Linked DNA regions of Homo sapiens. The protein of the gene in region 2 interacts with the protein of the main gene of each other region in a biochemical or structural test. Each region holds a gene or a part of one and is shown on either strand. Other genes may lie near its edges. The genes, in order: PARP14 and PARP10.

Region 1 (7,346 bases), on a different chromosome or scaffold from region 2:
TTTCTCTCCTTGCATCCTCTAATTTCAGATTGGTCATTTTGTTAAAACAATGAGAAGTGTTATTGTCATTATACTGCCATTCTATAAACTCACTGATACAATCTGCCCGGGATTCCTGTTCTTTGGCCAATCGAACTCTCTTGATCATCGCCTCAATTTCATCTCTAGCCTGCATCACATCTCTGCTAATTCCCAAAACCTTAATCAAAGGTCTCTTATGGTCCAGGGAAATGTTAATATTTAACTTCTTCTGCAGCTCATTCAACTCCTGATACTCCTTTTCATCAAAGTCTTTGATGCACTCATCTTCACTGGTGTAAGGACACTGTTCTTTTTCAATCAGGTCTTGTAGCCAGGAGATAGCATATTCCACACACGTGACATTTTCACCACACACCCGAAAAGTTGCTGATTCTGTTTTCTTTTCCAAAACCAAATGATTCTTTTTTTGGGGAGATTGCTTTGAAAAGCCCAAAAATGCTAAAAAGAAAAGGAAGATTAGGTATTTCACATGTGACATCAACGTTATGAACATGCATTTCATAAAAACAAAGAACTCACATGCAAGTTTAGACATCACAGACTGTTGGGAAGAAAGCTGAGTCCCTTCTCTTTTCTTCATGTTGGCATAAAACACATCCAGTACTTGAGGCAGAAAGATAACAACTTTAACTTTTTTCACAGACTGGGCTGATCCTTTCTGGACAAAGTCTTCAATGGCATCAATTATGGCTTCAGCAACCTTATCTGGGTGTTGTTTGGCATTTCCTGGAAAAGCAAATAATAAAATTGCTGAAGGACAAAAAAGCCCCAAGTGGAAGGCTGAGGAATAAATTAGGGTTTCCAATGCTCAGAGAATAAATGCCCACTCCTCAATTCTTTCATCATTGTGGAATTTTCTAACAAAGCATCAGCAAACACTTTTGAAGTCCTAGATGCAATGAAGTGTTTTTGTTCCAGGATGTCAGGAAGCCCACAGCCTAGCAGTGAACAAAGGACCCAGAAATCTGACTTTTGGTGTCTGACAATCATATCTACTCTATTCAACTGATCCCAGCTCATTGTGTTCCTCCTCTCCTATTACAGAGCACAAGTAGCTTTTCTACTTAGCTCGCTAGTGTCCTTGAAATTTCATAAAAAGCAGATGCTAATATATGTTGACATAAAATACTTTTTAAAGATGAAAATCTTTTTTAGGATCAGTCATCACTTGATTTTATGTATGTATCCTTATTCTCCCAGATATCTCTGGGAACCTAATTTGAACTAAGCAAAATTTAGTAAGACACCCAGTGCTACAGGCTATTTGTTATAATCTATAATTTTTCAGACACAAGTTATCTATAAGCCTCCAAGAAGCCTTTCCCTCCACACTCAGTGAGATTTTAGCTGACCAGCAGGATTCAAGGTAGCCACCTGAAGCAGAGCGTTTCCTGTTTTCAGCATACTCCATATCCTCCTTCTCAAGCCATGAAAGCAACAGCCTAGGTAAGATCATGAAAAGTCCCTTTCCAGCTGGGGGAACAGTCCCATGTGAATAACAGCTGGCAAAGTCACATGATGGGCAATGTAAAAGTTCCTTGGCCAAGCTGATGTGACAGACTAAGAGCCCACCTGGCTAATTGTTGTTGATGGTACCCACCACTATTGCAGAAGAAGAGTAGGCTTCTTTGACTTGGCTATGCTGACAATTGTGGGAATGTAGACAACCCCACATAAAATTAACCAAGGGGGGTTGTTCAAATCTTTTTAAATCAGATGATCAGAGAACGAGGGAAATTCTCTTTTGCAAAGCTGTAATTTTCCCATGGTATTTTGAAGAGTTTATATGGACACATTCAGTTACATTCATTCACTTTCAAGAAACATCTGCTATGTCCTATCACTGGCTAGGTACTCACTAGGCACTTGCTAGAACACAGATGATGTGATATGCGGGGATGAACAGGTGATCAACAGGTGAAATATGGAAAATTGAGGGAAAGGCTATGCCAGATGGAACTATGTAATGGGTATATGTTCAGCCTGGCACGTATGCAGAACAGACCTAGTTTTGAGGAAGTTAAGTCTGGAGGGGTATGGAGGAAGCATGGAGCGGGGAGCCCAGGTCTAGTTAGGACGCTGTAATAAAAGCTTAGTCAAAAGACAAGAGCTGAACAAAAAGAGGAGGCCAGAATGAAGAATAGGGATTGAGGAGCTATTTTGGAAGTAAAGTCAGGAGTACCTAGGGACCAGCTGGGTTTGTCCTTCACCTTTCCCTCTCTGTCTTTTGCCATACACATACCTTCACTATATCATGGTTCACGTTGCATTGCAGTTGTTTGTTTGCATGCCTGTCTCTCACACTGGGCTCAGTGCTCCTTGTGAACTGGATCCTTTTCTTAGTTATCTTTCTATCTCCAGAGCCTAAACATGGTGCCTTGCAGATGCAGGCACTCAGTAAATATTCAATCAAATAATTCCTAAGCTAATGAAGATCGGAGTGACGAAGAGGGTAGAGTCAAGGACTCTAGATGGAAAGTGATGTTTTTCACGTGATTGGGGATATAAGAGGAAGGGCAGGTTTGGGGAGATGACAAGGAATGAGAGTTTGGAGTCTGCGTTGAGCTTGAGGTGATCACAGGTATTGCTAACCACCTAATCTCTCCTCTTATGCAGGTGTCTTTAAGGAACAGAGAGGAGGCTCCTTTAACTGCCAGAGGCTGTCTTGATCACAGTCTTAATTCAACTCATATACACCACTAAAAGAGAAAGCTTCTACATCTATCAGTCTCAGAACCAGCTCAGGTGGTGATAAAGATAGGTAAAGAGGACATGCAAGGATAACCCACTAACCCTGATTTATTTGTGCTGACCAGCAATGCAACCAGGTCAGTGGAAGAAACAACAGGATTTGTTGTTGAGTCCAGAATTGAGTCCAGAAATGCTCAAATGTGTACATATTTATACAAAACGAAACCTACCTTCTTTCTTTGTTTCTTCTTTTGACTCTACCAGGGACTCCTTTGGGAAGGTCTGTGGCACCCCTAAGCTGCTTGCTTTCTTGGCCCAAATCAACTGAAGGTGGAAACCCAAGACTAGAGCTCAGAGAAAAAAACAGATGGAGACAGAGACTGAGGAGTCATTGGTGGGTGTCCATAAAAGATAAGTCAGTAGAGAGATGATAGAGATAGATAGACAGATCGATAGATAGATAGATAGATAGATAGATAGATAGATAGATAGATAGATAGATAGATAGATGACTGGTAGAGAGAGATAGGAGAAATGTTGGCTAATCTGCTAGGAATAGATGATACTCTAAGGGGAATGAAAACAAAGGGATCAAAAATTATACTTTTAGAAATAGAAAAGTTGTAAAATAGACATAGAATTCCATCTCGGAACATTATAAGAAATGGTACAGAATTACAGATATGGGTCAGAGGGTTAGAAGAAGGCCCAGAAATTGACAAGGATGGTTAAGTTTATTGAGGATAACCTTTTGGAAAGCCTAGAATGCCAGCATAAGAGATTCAAACTTAGATTCCCGAGCAACAGAATGACAGATCCGATGCTGACTATTCTCGCACTGGAACAAGGCAGCTCCGTTGACTTCAAGCCTAAGAATGCATGCCTCCCCTGACCAGCTCTCTGAAGGAGACCAAGCAGGGATTCCTAAAGAGCTCAAAGAACACCTGTGCAACAAAACTGCACATTCTGCCCATGTACCCCAGTATAATTAAAAAAAAAAAACCACCTAATTAATGATAAATCCAGAGCGCCATCCTTATATATGAAAAATCACGCTATCATTACCTAGTTTTAGGAAAAGAAGAAAATCAAAGAAGCAAGTAGGCTGAAAAGAGGAAAGTGGAGAGTTGAGTTTCTGACCCACTAGGTTCTGGTGACTGAGAAGCTTCTACACAGAAATGCCCTGAGGCCAAGTGACACAGCTGACTGTTGAGCTGAAGCCTGGTAATATTCCTCTGGGAATCAGCTAGAGTGAGGTGGAAGTTGTTGTACTAATATTCTCCATGGAGAGGGGAAAGAGGAGGAAGCTAAGGACTGCATAATGGAGAATATGTAGGGAATGGAAAAAGGGAAAGTAACTGAGGAAAGAGAATGAGGGATGGCCTTTCCACTCTCTCCCTTCTCTTCTCCTCCTTATTTTCCCTTCCCTTCTTTCTGCCTCTCTAACATTCTAACACTCTCTTCAGTCTCCTGCATTTTGTCCCTCTTTTACTCAAACAATCCACAGGCTTTGTCATTCCCTTGGGAGTTGTCTTATGGGGAGGAAGCTGTCCACTCCTAGCTTAATGGTTGCTGCCCTGGGTCAGACTCAGCACTGACCGCATTCACACTCAGCTCCAAATGAAAGGGAAAGTAGATGGCTTGGGATTTAGCCTTGACAGCCAGAGGCTACGAACCTGTCCCAATGGCTGGGAGGCAAATGGATGAGTAATTTTTTTTTTCACACTCCTGCAAAACAGAGGAAACTGAACTCTTGACATCATTTCCACCAATTACATGAATGATATTCTTGCACCTCAAAAATCCACCTCCGGTGATTATATAATCATTTTTGCGCTGCTGAGCTGGGAAACACAGACAAAAAGATGCAAAATTAGTAGAAGTTGAACCCGTCATTTGTTTAGAAAGCAAAATGTATAACTTGGCAAGTAAGCATTTTGTGAAAAAAAAAAAACTCCTGAAATACTATCTTTGATGGAATGCTATGACTTAACTTTACTTTTAACTGTGAGATTACTTTTCACTTCTAAGTGTCTGTGATTGGAATTCTTTAGTAAAATGTATCATTTTAAAATTAGAGTGTTGTCTCCCCAACCCTAAGACTTTTCTCAGCCTCTCCACAGCCTCCCATACAATTACAACTTAGGACCAAAAAATAGAATATGCCTTACCTTGCTGAGAACATTCCCTTTCTACATTTTGTCCAGCACATTCTAAAATTGCTTTGGAGACCCCTACATGAGAAAATCAAGATGATAACAAACATGAGTAAAAAACCACTATGGTATATTTGGATCAGAAGGATTATCTGAATGCATTCTCCATCATCTGAGGAATCCTCTAATTGGGTATTGCTGATGACAAAGAAGAAAACTTCATAAAATAAACATTATTAATTATGGAAAACCCTGTCAGCATAATTTAAAAGTTATTAATTAACAAGCCAAAGTTCTAAAAACCAGTTTGGCTATAGAAACCCTCCTTCATAGCATCTACCATTAACTATTGCACTCATCAAAATTGTACAAGTACCTGCTTTGAGATTGAATGAGTTTGATGTTGAATTTACAATCACATCTGCCTCTTCTTTCGTGATATCTCCAGAAGCCACCTGGAAGATGATGGAGCCAATCTTCATTTCATACACACCTGAATCAGGGCTAGAAACAGTCCCATAAAAACCTGAAAAGAAAAGAAGTAAAGTCAATAACCGAGTCAGCCACAGCAAGAATGACTTGGGTATCCTGCTCACATGGGACCCTCTTGGATGTCTTCCCTCTCCCTCTCTTTCTGTGACCTCTGGTCTTTAACCTGGCCCTGCTCCTCAGCCTCAGTGATGATCTGTTTAAGAAAAAAGAATTAGAACATAGAATCCATATCAAACATGAACTCTGGTGCTGACCAAGGTGAAGTTAGCGTACTATAGCCTATCTCTCCCGTTGATTACAACTAAAAACAGGACAAATACAAAAAGCCACCACCCAAGAGCTCTGAAAAGTTACAATAACAGCAGACAGATTGAAGAAAGGTGCCAAAACTTGCAGAAGCAATCTGCTAAGTGGGGCAGTTTTCCATTTTGTTCTGTTTTAAAATTTTTCCTCTTTTCTCTCCCAGCTTTGACCCAAGGGTGGCCCTAGTCTCACAACATAATATTTAAAATGTCAAGTCTGTATTCCAAAATTGCTTGTTATATAAAGAACCAGGAAAATTTGATCAACCCTTAAGGATAAAGAAAATCAAAAGCTGTCAATCCAGCCAGACACAATGGCTCATGTCTGCAATCCCAGCACTTTGGGAGGCCGAGGTGGGTGGATCACTTGAGTCCAGGAGTTCGAGATCAGCCTGAACAACATGGTGAAACCCCATCTCTACAAATAATACAAATATTAGCTGGGATGGTGGTGCACAACTGTAGTCCCAGCTACTTGGGAGGCTGAGGTAGGAGGATCACCTGAGCCCCCAGAGGTTGAGGCTGCAGTGAGTTGAGATTGTGCCACTGCACTCCAGCTTGAGTGACAGAGTGAGACTCTGTCTCAAAAAAAAAAAGATGTCAATCCTGGCCAGGCATGGTGGCTCATGCCTGTAATTCCAGCACTTTGGGAGGCCGAGGCAGGTGGATCACTTGAGGTCAGGAGTTCAAGACAAGCCTGTCCAACATGGTAAAACCTTCTCTCTGCTAAAAGAAAAATACAAAACTTAGCTGGGCGTGGTGGCACAGGCCTGTAATCCCAGCTATTTGGGAGGCTGAGCAAGGAAATCACTTGAACCCGGGAGGCGGAGGTTGCAGTGAGCCAAGATTGCACCACTGCACTCCAGACTGGGCAACAGAGCAAGACTCCATAGAAAAAAGAAAAAAAAAAAAAAAGATGTGAATCCCAAAAAGATGTGAATTATAGAAGACTTTAAAGCATCTACTATAACTATGATCCATGAGGTCAAAGTAAACACATTTGAATGGATGGAAATGATGTGGAATGAATGGAAAAATAGGATGTCTCTGCAGAGAAATAGAAACTATTTTAAAAAGACCTCAAACAAACAAACAAAAAAAGATAAAAATGAAACAAAAAGCTGGTTCTTTGAAAAGATAAAGAAAATTCATAGACCATTAGTGAGATTAACCAAGAAAAGAAGAGAGAAGATCCAAATAAGCTCAATTAGAAATGAAACTGGAGACATTACAATCAATGCCTCAGAAATACAAAAGATCATTCAAGGCTGCTATGAACACCTTTACATGCACAAACTAGAAACTCTAGAGGAAATGGATAAATTCCTGGAAACATACAACCCTCCTAGGTTAAATCAGAAAGAAACAGAAACCTTGAACAGACCAATAACAAGCAGCAAGACTGAACTAGTAATTAAAAAAAATTGCCAACAACAAAAAAGTCCCAGACCAGGTGGATTCACAGCTGAATTCTACCAGACATTCAAAGAATTGGTACCAATCCTACTGAAACTATTCCAAAAGATAGAGAAAGAAGAAATCCTCCCTAAATCAGTCTAAAAGCTAGTATTAAACTAATAATAAATCCAAGAAAGGATACAACAAAAAAAAACTACAGACCAATATCCCTGATGAACACAGATGCAAAAATCTTTGACAAAAT
Region 2 (7,149 bases):
GGGCTAAGGAGGAGGCAGCGGACACCGAGGAGGGGGCCGCCGCGCCCCGCCCCCACTGGCTTCTCCACGGGCCGCCCCGGTTGCAGCCCCCCGCCCGGAGCCCTGCGGTCAGCCGCGCCTCCCCAGCGGCCTTTCCTGCCCACACCCCGGGCACCGCCCGTCCAGTTCCGCAGTCTCGGGCGTGCAGGGAGGTGCTGTCCTCTCGAGCGAGGGCAGGAGGGGGCGCGGCGCAGCCCCTAGTTCCGTGTGGCCTGCGGCCGGAGACCGCCCCCCGACCCCCACCCCGCAGCGCCCGCACGCGGCGCGCCTCTCCATCCTGGCCGCGGTCATACATGCCTGGTGGCTCCGCTCACTTCAGCTCTGCCGCCGCAGCCAGACTGCTCGGGCCGGGAGAGCGGCGGAGGCGGCGCAGGCGGGGCGAGCCCCGAGCCCCGCCCCGGCCCCCACCCAGAGCTGCGCCGCGCGGGCCCGGCCGAGAGCGAGCGAACGCTGCCAGCGAGATCGGGCGCCCGTGTCTGCGCGGGGCCGCCGAGATCTCGGGAGCGGCGGGGCTGGGGCCCGGGCGGGCGATTCGGCCAGGGCAGCGGCGCACACCTGAGCCCCCGGCGCACGGGGCGGGCCGGTAGTCAAGGAGACGCTGTCTGCGCCGGCGTGCGCGACACGGGAACGTCGTGCGCTCGCCCCGGTGAGCTCCGGGCCCCGCCCCGCACCCCGACGCCTCCTCGGAAGCAGCAGATCCCGCCCCTGGGCCGCGGAGATCCCCACTCCCCAAACAGAGGTCGCAGTCAGAGTTCCCGGGTCCCTTCCGCCTGGGTTCACGTTCACGTTTATTCAAACAACAGAGCCGACTCGGGCGAGGTCTGGGAGCGGCGGGCGGGCGGTGTCGCCTCCTGGGCTCTGCTGACCCCTGGTGGTGGGGTCGGCCCAGGCTGGGACCTAGCCCGGCCCCCCTCGGCCGCTGCTGACCGCCATCCCCCACACCGCCTTCTGGAGCCCGCAGAGGGAGGCAGGGGCGTCCCCGGGGACAGCTCAGGCGGCCACAGTTGGGGGCGGGGAGCATCAGCCTGTGCGGAGCTGGGAGCCTGGGAAGCAGGAGGCCAGAGGGTGGCCCCTTCGGTTAAGTGTCTGGGGAGCGGCCCGGGAGCCCAGAGGGGTCGTCGGGGGAAGCGCGGGGCACGTGCTCGCAGGTGATGAGGTGGGTGGGCAGCGCCTGGGTGTCGTGGAAGATGACGAAGATGCTGGGCTGGCAGATGCAGTCCACGGCGCTGTCGTAGCGCAGGAGCACGTGGCCAGGACCCCGCAGAGGGGGCGCCCGCAGACCGCGGCGGCCCTGCCCGTAGTCGCCAGTCAGCACCCGTGCCACGAACACCGCCTTATGGCCATCGGCGTTGGGGGGCGAGTAGCGGTCCTGCACCGACAGGGAGGCGCGCCTGGCGAAATACACGCCCTTCCCGTAGACCGTGGCTGCAGGGCGAGACGGGGCAAGGTCAGGGTGGTCGGGGTGCGCAGAGCCCCCGCCCCTGCCCGGCTCAGGCCTCACCGTTGCGGCCGCAGAAGCTGCGGTTGAAGCCGTGGGCGCAGATGTCAGGCACTGCCGGTGCCGTCGTGCCGTGGTACAGCACCTGCTCCACCGGGCGCCGCTCGCATCGCTGCAGCAGGCGCTCCCGGTACAGCTCATACTGCTGCTGCAGCAGCGGGTGCGACACGCGCTCCACCTGCGGGGAAGGCCCGGGCCAGGATTAAACACCCTCCCTACGCCCTGGGGCCGACGCAGGGCAGAGCTGAGCCTGGCAACCAGGAGCCCTCTGTTGGAGGAGTCCAGGGTTTGAGGGAGCCCTTGCAGCCCCCATCATGCTCTGTCCAGCAGCAGACAGTAACACCTCCGTGAAGCAAGTGACTTCAGAGGGCCGCTGGGGAGGCCTGACCCCTCCCCCTCCCGTGGAGGTCTGCGGGCGGGCAAACCCCACCCACTCAAGCGAGGCCTCTGCAGAGAAAAGCTGAGCCAGGGCCCTATGCTGCCTACAGGACTTGACTCCAACACGAGGAGATGCCACAGACCTCTCAGTGCTGAAAGACCCAGGTGGGAGAGAAGGCCTCAGGTGACCAACCTGACAGCCCTGGGAAACACTTTTAAAGAAATTTTAAATAGTTTCTTCAGAGAGTTGCAAAAGAACACCATGTCTATTAAACAAAACTAGCTGCTATGAAAAGGAACTAGTCTGAAAACCAGAGTGCTCCTGCATTCAGAAAGGGACGCTGAGCTAAATCTAGAGGGGGTGAGCCAAATGAGGAAGTGGTTCAAACTGAAGACCCAGCTAGCGTTCTAGATGGAGTTCAGGAACTGATGCAGAGTGAGAAGCTAACGGAAGAGAAAGGAACTCCGAGGGAGCAGGTGAGGGGGCCTGAGGTCTGAGCCGGCATAGCAGGAGCTCCACCGGCCGGAGCTCCAGCACACACAGGGAAGACGCTTCCCTGAGCTGAAGGAACATCTTCAGATACACAAGATCCGTGAAATGCCAAGAAGGACAATGAGGAAAGACAACGCCCCTGGCACCCACGTGCCAGGAAACCTCAACCTTCAGAGTGAAAGAAAACCCTGCAAGTTTTTTTTTTTTTTTTTCTTTGAGAGGGAGTCTGGCTGTGTCGCCCAGGCTGGAGTGCAGTGGCACGATCTCGGCTCACTGCAAGCTCCGCCTCCCGGGTTCACGCCATTCTCCTGCCTCAGCCTCCCGAATAGCTGGGACTACAGGCACCTGCCACCGCGCCCGGCTATCTTTTTTGTATTTTTAGTAGAGAAGGGGTTTCACTGTGTTAGCCAGGATGGTCTCGATCTCCTGACCTCGTGATCCGCCCGCCTCAGCCTCCCAAAGTGCTGGGATTACAGGCGTGAGCCACCGCAGCTGGCCAACCCTGCAAGTTTACACACACACACAACAAGGTCAATATGCAAACCGGAAGAAGTCTCACCTTCTCACATTGGGTCTCTCATTACCGACACCAGATGCTAAGAAACCATGGGGGGATATTTTTTAACTTTCCAAGAAAAATATTCTTTTAAGAATGAAGAAAAACAGCAATGTCTTCAAATATCTGAGGAAAAACATATTTTGAACCTGAACACTATATCCAGCCAAACTAGTAATGAAGAATGAGGACAAATAAGGGCATATTAGGACACACGAGAACATGGAAGTTCATACCAACATCAAATTACAGTTGCAAAATACCTCTAATTGTAAAGGGCAATATAAATTTAAAAGTCGGCCGGGTGCAGTGGCTCACGCCTGTAATCCTGGCACTTTGGGAGGCCAAGGTGGGTGGATCACTTGAGGTCAGGAGTTCGAGACCAGCCTGACCAACATGGCAAAACCCCGTCTCGCTGGGCATGGTGGCTCACGCCTGTAATCCCAGCACTTTGGGAGGCCGAGGTGGGCGGATCACGAGGTCGGGAGATCGAGACCATGGTGAAACCCCGTCTCTATTAAAAATACAAAATTTAGCCGGGCGCGGTGGCGGGCGCCTGTAGTCACAGCTACTCAGGAGGCTGAGGCAGGAGAATGGCGTGAACGCAGGAGGCGGAGCTTGCAGTGAGCCGACATCGTGCCACTGCACTCCAGCCTGAGTGACAGAGCGAGACTCCGTCTCAAAAAAAAAAAAAAAAAAAACCCGTCTCAGCCGGGCGCGGTGGCTCACGCCTGTAATCCCAGCACTTTGGGAGGCCGAGGTGGGCAGATCATGAGGTCAGGAGATTGAGACCATCCTGGCTAACATGGTGAAACCCCGTCTCTAATAAAAATACAAAAATAAGCTGGGCGTGGTGGCAGGCGCCTGTAGTCCCAGCTACTCAGGAGGCTGAGGCAGGAGAATGGCGTGAACCCGGGAGGCAGAGCTTGCAGTGAGCTGAGATTGCACCACTGCACTCCAGCCTGGGCTACTGAGTGAGATTCCGTCTCAAAAAAAAAAAAAAAAAAAAAAAAAAAAAAAACCATCTCTACTAAAAATACAAAAAGTAGCTGGGTGTGGTGGTGTGTGCCTGTAATCCCAGCTACTTGGGAGGCTGAGGCAGAATCACTTGAACCCAAGAGGTGGAGGTTGCAGTGAGCCGAGATCATGCCACTGCACTCTAGCCTGGGCAACAGAGAGAGACACTGTCTCAAAAAAATTATATATATAAATGTATATATTAATATATAAATGTATATGTTTAAACATATATGTTCACATATACGTAAATTTAAAAGTCAAATATGTTTAGCACCCACTCAAGGAGATACTCCCACTAAACAAAAGAGTCTGTGCCAAAAGGTGACAAGCGGGGTACTGAGTAACCCGGTGGTCAAGAATGGCCTGGAAAAAATGAAGAAAGTCAAAAAAAGAAAAGCCATTAGCCTTGAATCCTAGAACATCTTTTTTACAGAACAGAATTTTAATAACTAGGATTTCACTTCTCTTTCTATGGCTCAGTGGTAAATGTTTTTTCATTATTATAGTATGTCTACCAACCTATGGCCCACGCATGGAGGCTTTGTGATAGTTACAGAAACCTTTACGACATAATAAAAATAATGTAACTGACCAAATTGAGATGGAAGATGAGGGAGGAGGCAAAAGAGAGAGAAGCGAGGCCCATTCTCCTCATCTTCCATGCGGGAAGGCAAGAAACAATCTCTAAAGCTGTCAAGTGAAAAAAAAAAATTCAAGCATACCATTTAAAGTCATCAAGGTGCTCACTAAATTCAAGCATACCATTTAAAGTCATCAAGGTGCTCACCGGAAGAACCAAGTACGTATAATTAACAAAACCACCAGGATATGAGGTCAGTGCGTCTGGGTGGTGGTGATCCTGGTGGCGGTGAGCGGTGACGGTGTGTTGGTGAAGCTGACGGTGACAGTGGTGATGCTAATGGTGGTGATGATGGTGGCCACGGTGGTGGTGGTAGTGGTGGTGGTGATGGTGGTGACGACAGTGAGTGGTGAAGGTGATGGTGATGATGGTGGTGACGACAGTGAGTGGTGAAGGTGATGGTGATGATGGTGGTGACGACAGTGAGTGGTGAAGGTGGTGGTGATGATGGTGGTGACGACAGTGAGTGGTGAAGGTGGTGGTGATGATGGTGGTGACGACAGTGAGTGGTGAAGGTGGTGGTGATGGTGGTGACGACAGTGAGTGGTGAAGGTGATGGTGATGATGGTGGTGACGACAGTGAGTGGTGAAGGTGGTGGTGATGATGGTGGTGACGACAGTGAGTGGTGAAGGTGATGGTGATGATGGTGGTGACGACAGTGAGTGGTGAAGGTGGTGGTGATGATGGTGGTGACGACAGTGAGTGGTGAAGGTGGTGGTGATGATGGTGGTGACGACAGTGAGTGGTGAAGGTGATGGTGATGATGGTGGTGACGACAGTGAGTGGTGAAGGTGGTGGTGATGATGGTGGTGACGACAGTGAGTGGTGAAGGTGGTGGTGATGATGGTGGTGACGACAGTGAGTGGTGAAGGTGGTGGTGATGATGGTGGTGACGACAGTGAGTGGTGAAGGTGGTGGTGATGATGGTGATGGTGATGGTGGTGGTGATGACAGTGAGTGGTGAGGGTCATGGTGATGGTGTGATGGTGGTGGTGATGGTGATGGGGTGATGGTGATGATGGTGGTGATGATGGTGGTGAGGGTCATGGTGATGGTGTGATGGTGGTGATGATGGTGGTGAGGTCTGGGGACAGCCAGAGGTTCTTTTTGCATTTCTGACCAGCTCCTGGTGGAGGGTGATGCTGCTGGCCCCACGCACAACTTTGGGCATCAAGAGTTGAGAGTGCCCCGTGCAAGGCCGGGCGCGGTGGCTCACGCCTGTAATCCCAGCACTTTGGGAGGCCGAGGCGGGCGGATCACGAGGTCAGTAGATCGAGACCATCCTGGCTAACATGGTGAAACCCCGTCTCCACTAAAAATATTTTTTAAAAAATTAGCCGGGCGTGGTGGCAGGCGCCTGTAGTCCCAGCTACTTGGGAGGCTGAGGCAGGAGAATGGCGTGAACCCGGGAGGCGGAGCTTGCCGTGAGCCGAGATCGTGCCACTGCACTCCAGCCCAGGAGACACAGCGAGATGCCGTCTCAAAAAAGAGAGTGCCCCGCGCAGTGTCATCAGCACAGTGACCGCAGCGAGCCCGGGCCTTTCTGTGGAGGCAGAAGAGCGCCCAGAACAGCACAAGGGACGCATCTGTGGAGCGAGTAATCCTCAAAATGACCACAAGATGGCATCACCGCCCCATGCTCCAAATAAGGAAACTGAGGCCTGGAGCTGGTCCCATAGTCCCTGCTGACCCAGCCACGAGTGGCAGAGTGGGGACCCTCACTCAGGCCTATCAGATCCCAAGGCCCCCACTCTGTTCCCTCCTGTTTCCCTACCCACTTTGGGAACGCCCTCTGGGCAGAGAACAGGGCTGGGAGCCTGTCAGCTCCTGGTCAGCTGACCTTGATGTAGGCGAGAGGGACAGGCCACAGACTTGGCAAGGCGCTAATGGTGCAAGAGCCCAGGACGCCATGAGGCCAGAGAGACAGGGCATGGACTCACACGAACGACGCGGATGCTGCTGCGGGCAGCGTCCAGGGTGTCGTAGAAGGCCCGCACCACCTCCTGGAACTCCCCGGTGTTCTCTGCCAGACGCTCCAGGTTGTTCCAGGGCCCCTTCAGCGTCTGCCCCGCCACTGATGCATGGGGAAAAGCGGGGGGTCAGAGCCATGCCTGGGGCACTAGCCCCTGCTAACCAGCCCACCCCACCGTCCCTCAGTCCAGGAGGTAGACTCACAGGTAGGGCCTGAAGCTGCCAAGGGAAAGGCCAAACTCTGATCCCAGGGGCCAGCCAGAAGTGCCACCAAGTGGCGGGCAGCACGGGCAGGGTGGGCCCCGAAGCCACGGAGGATGGTGCAGTCACCACGCAGGGCAACACTCACACCATGGCACCGCTCCAGGCGAGCACGCAGCTCTGCAGGCAGTGTGCGGCGCCAGGGCCCCACCGTCTCCTCCTGGACGTGGACCTCCAAGGCAGCCCTGAGCGCCCGGTCCAGCTCCTCCACATCCTGCTCAAAGGCCGAGTGCACCACCAGCTGGGCCTTGCCATCAGTCCCCCCATCTGGGGGCTCTTCTGCCTCCAACGG

The links.
Region 1: the proteins of PARP10 (region 2) and PARP14 form a complex in vitro, tested with the Homo sapiens proteins (one study listed by BioGRID).

What each region holds. Positions count from the first base shown.
Region 1 is NC_000003.12:122,711,493-122,718,838, reverse strand, and holds part of PARP14 (protein mono-ADP-ribosyltransferase PARP14), read right to left. Parts: intron 5,575-7,346; coding exon of another isoform or gene 5,564-5,574; exon of another isoform or gene 5,416-5,563; coding exon 5,266-5,415; intron 4,968-5,265; coding exon 4,905-4,967; intron 4,578-4,904; coding exon 4,410-4,577; intron 769-4,409; coding exon 562-768; intron 481-561; coding exon 1-480. UniProt on the Homo sapiens protein: ADP-ribosyltransferase that mediates mono-ADP-ribosylation of glutamate residues on target proteins. In contrast to PARP1 and PARP2, it is not able to mediate poly-ADP-ribosylation.
Region 2 is NC_000008.11:143,976,367-143,983,515, forward strand, and holds the end of PARP10 (protein mono-ADP-ribosyltransferase PARP10), read right to left. Parts: coding exon 6,801-7,149; intron 6,700-6,800; coding exon 6,566-6,699; intron 1,716-6,565; coding exon 1,541-1,715; intron 1,465-1,540; coding exon 1,118-1,464; 3' UTR 792-1,117; downstream 1-791. UniProt on the Homo sapiens protein: ADP-ribosyltransferase that mediates mono-ADP-ribosylation of glutamate and aspartate residues on target proteins. In contrast to PARP1 and PARP2, it is not able to mediate poly-ADP-ribosylation.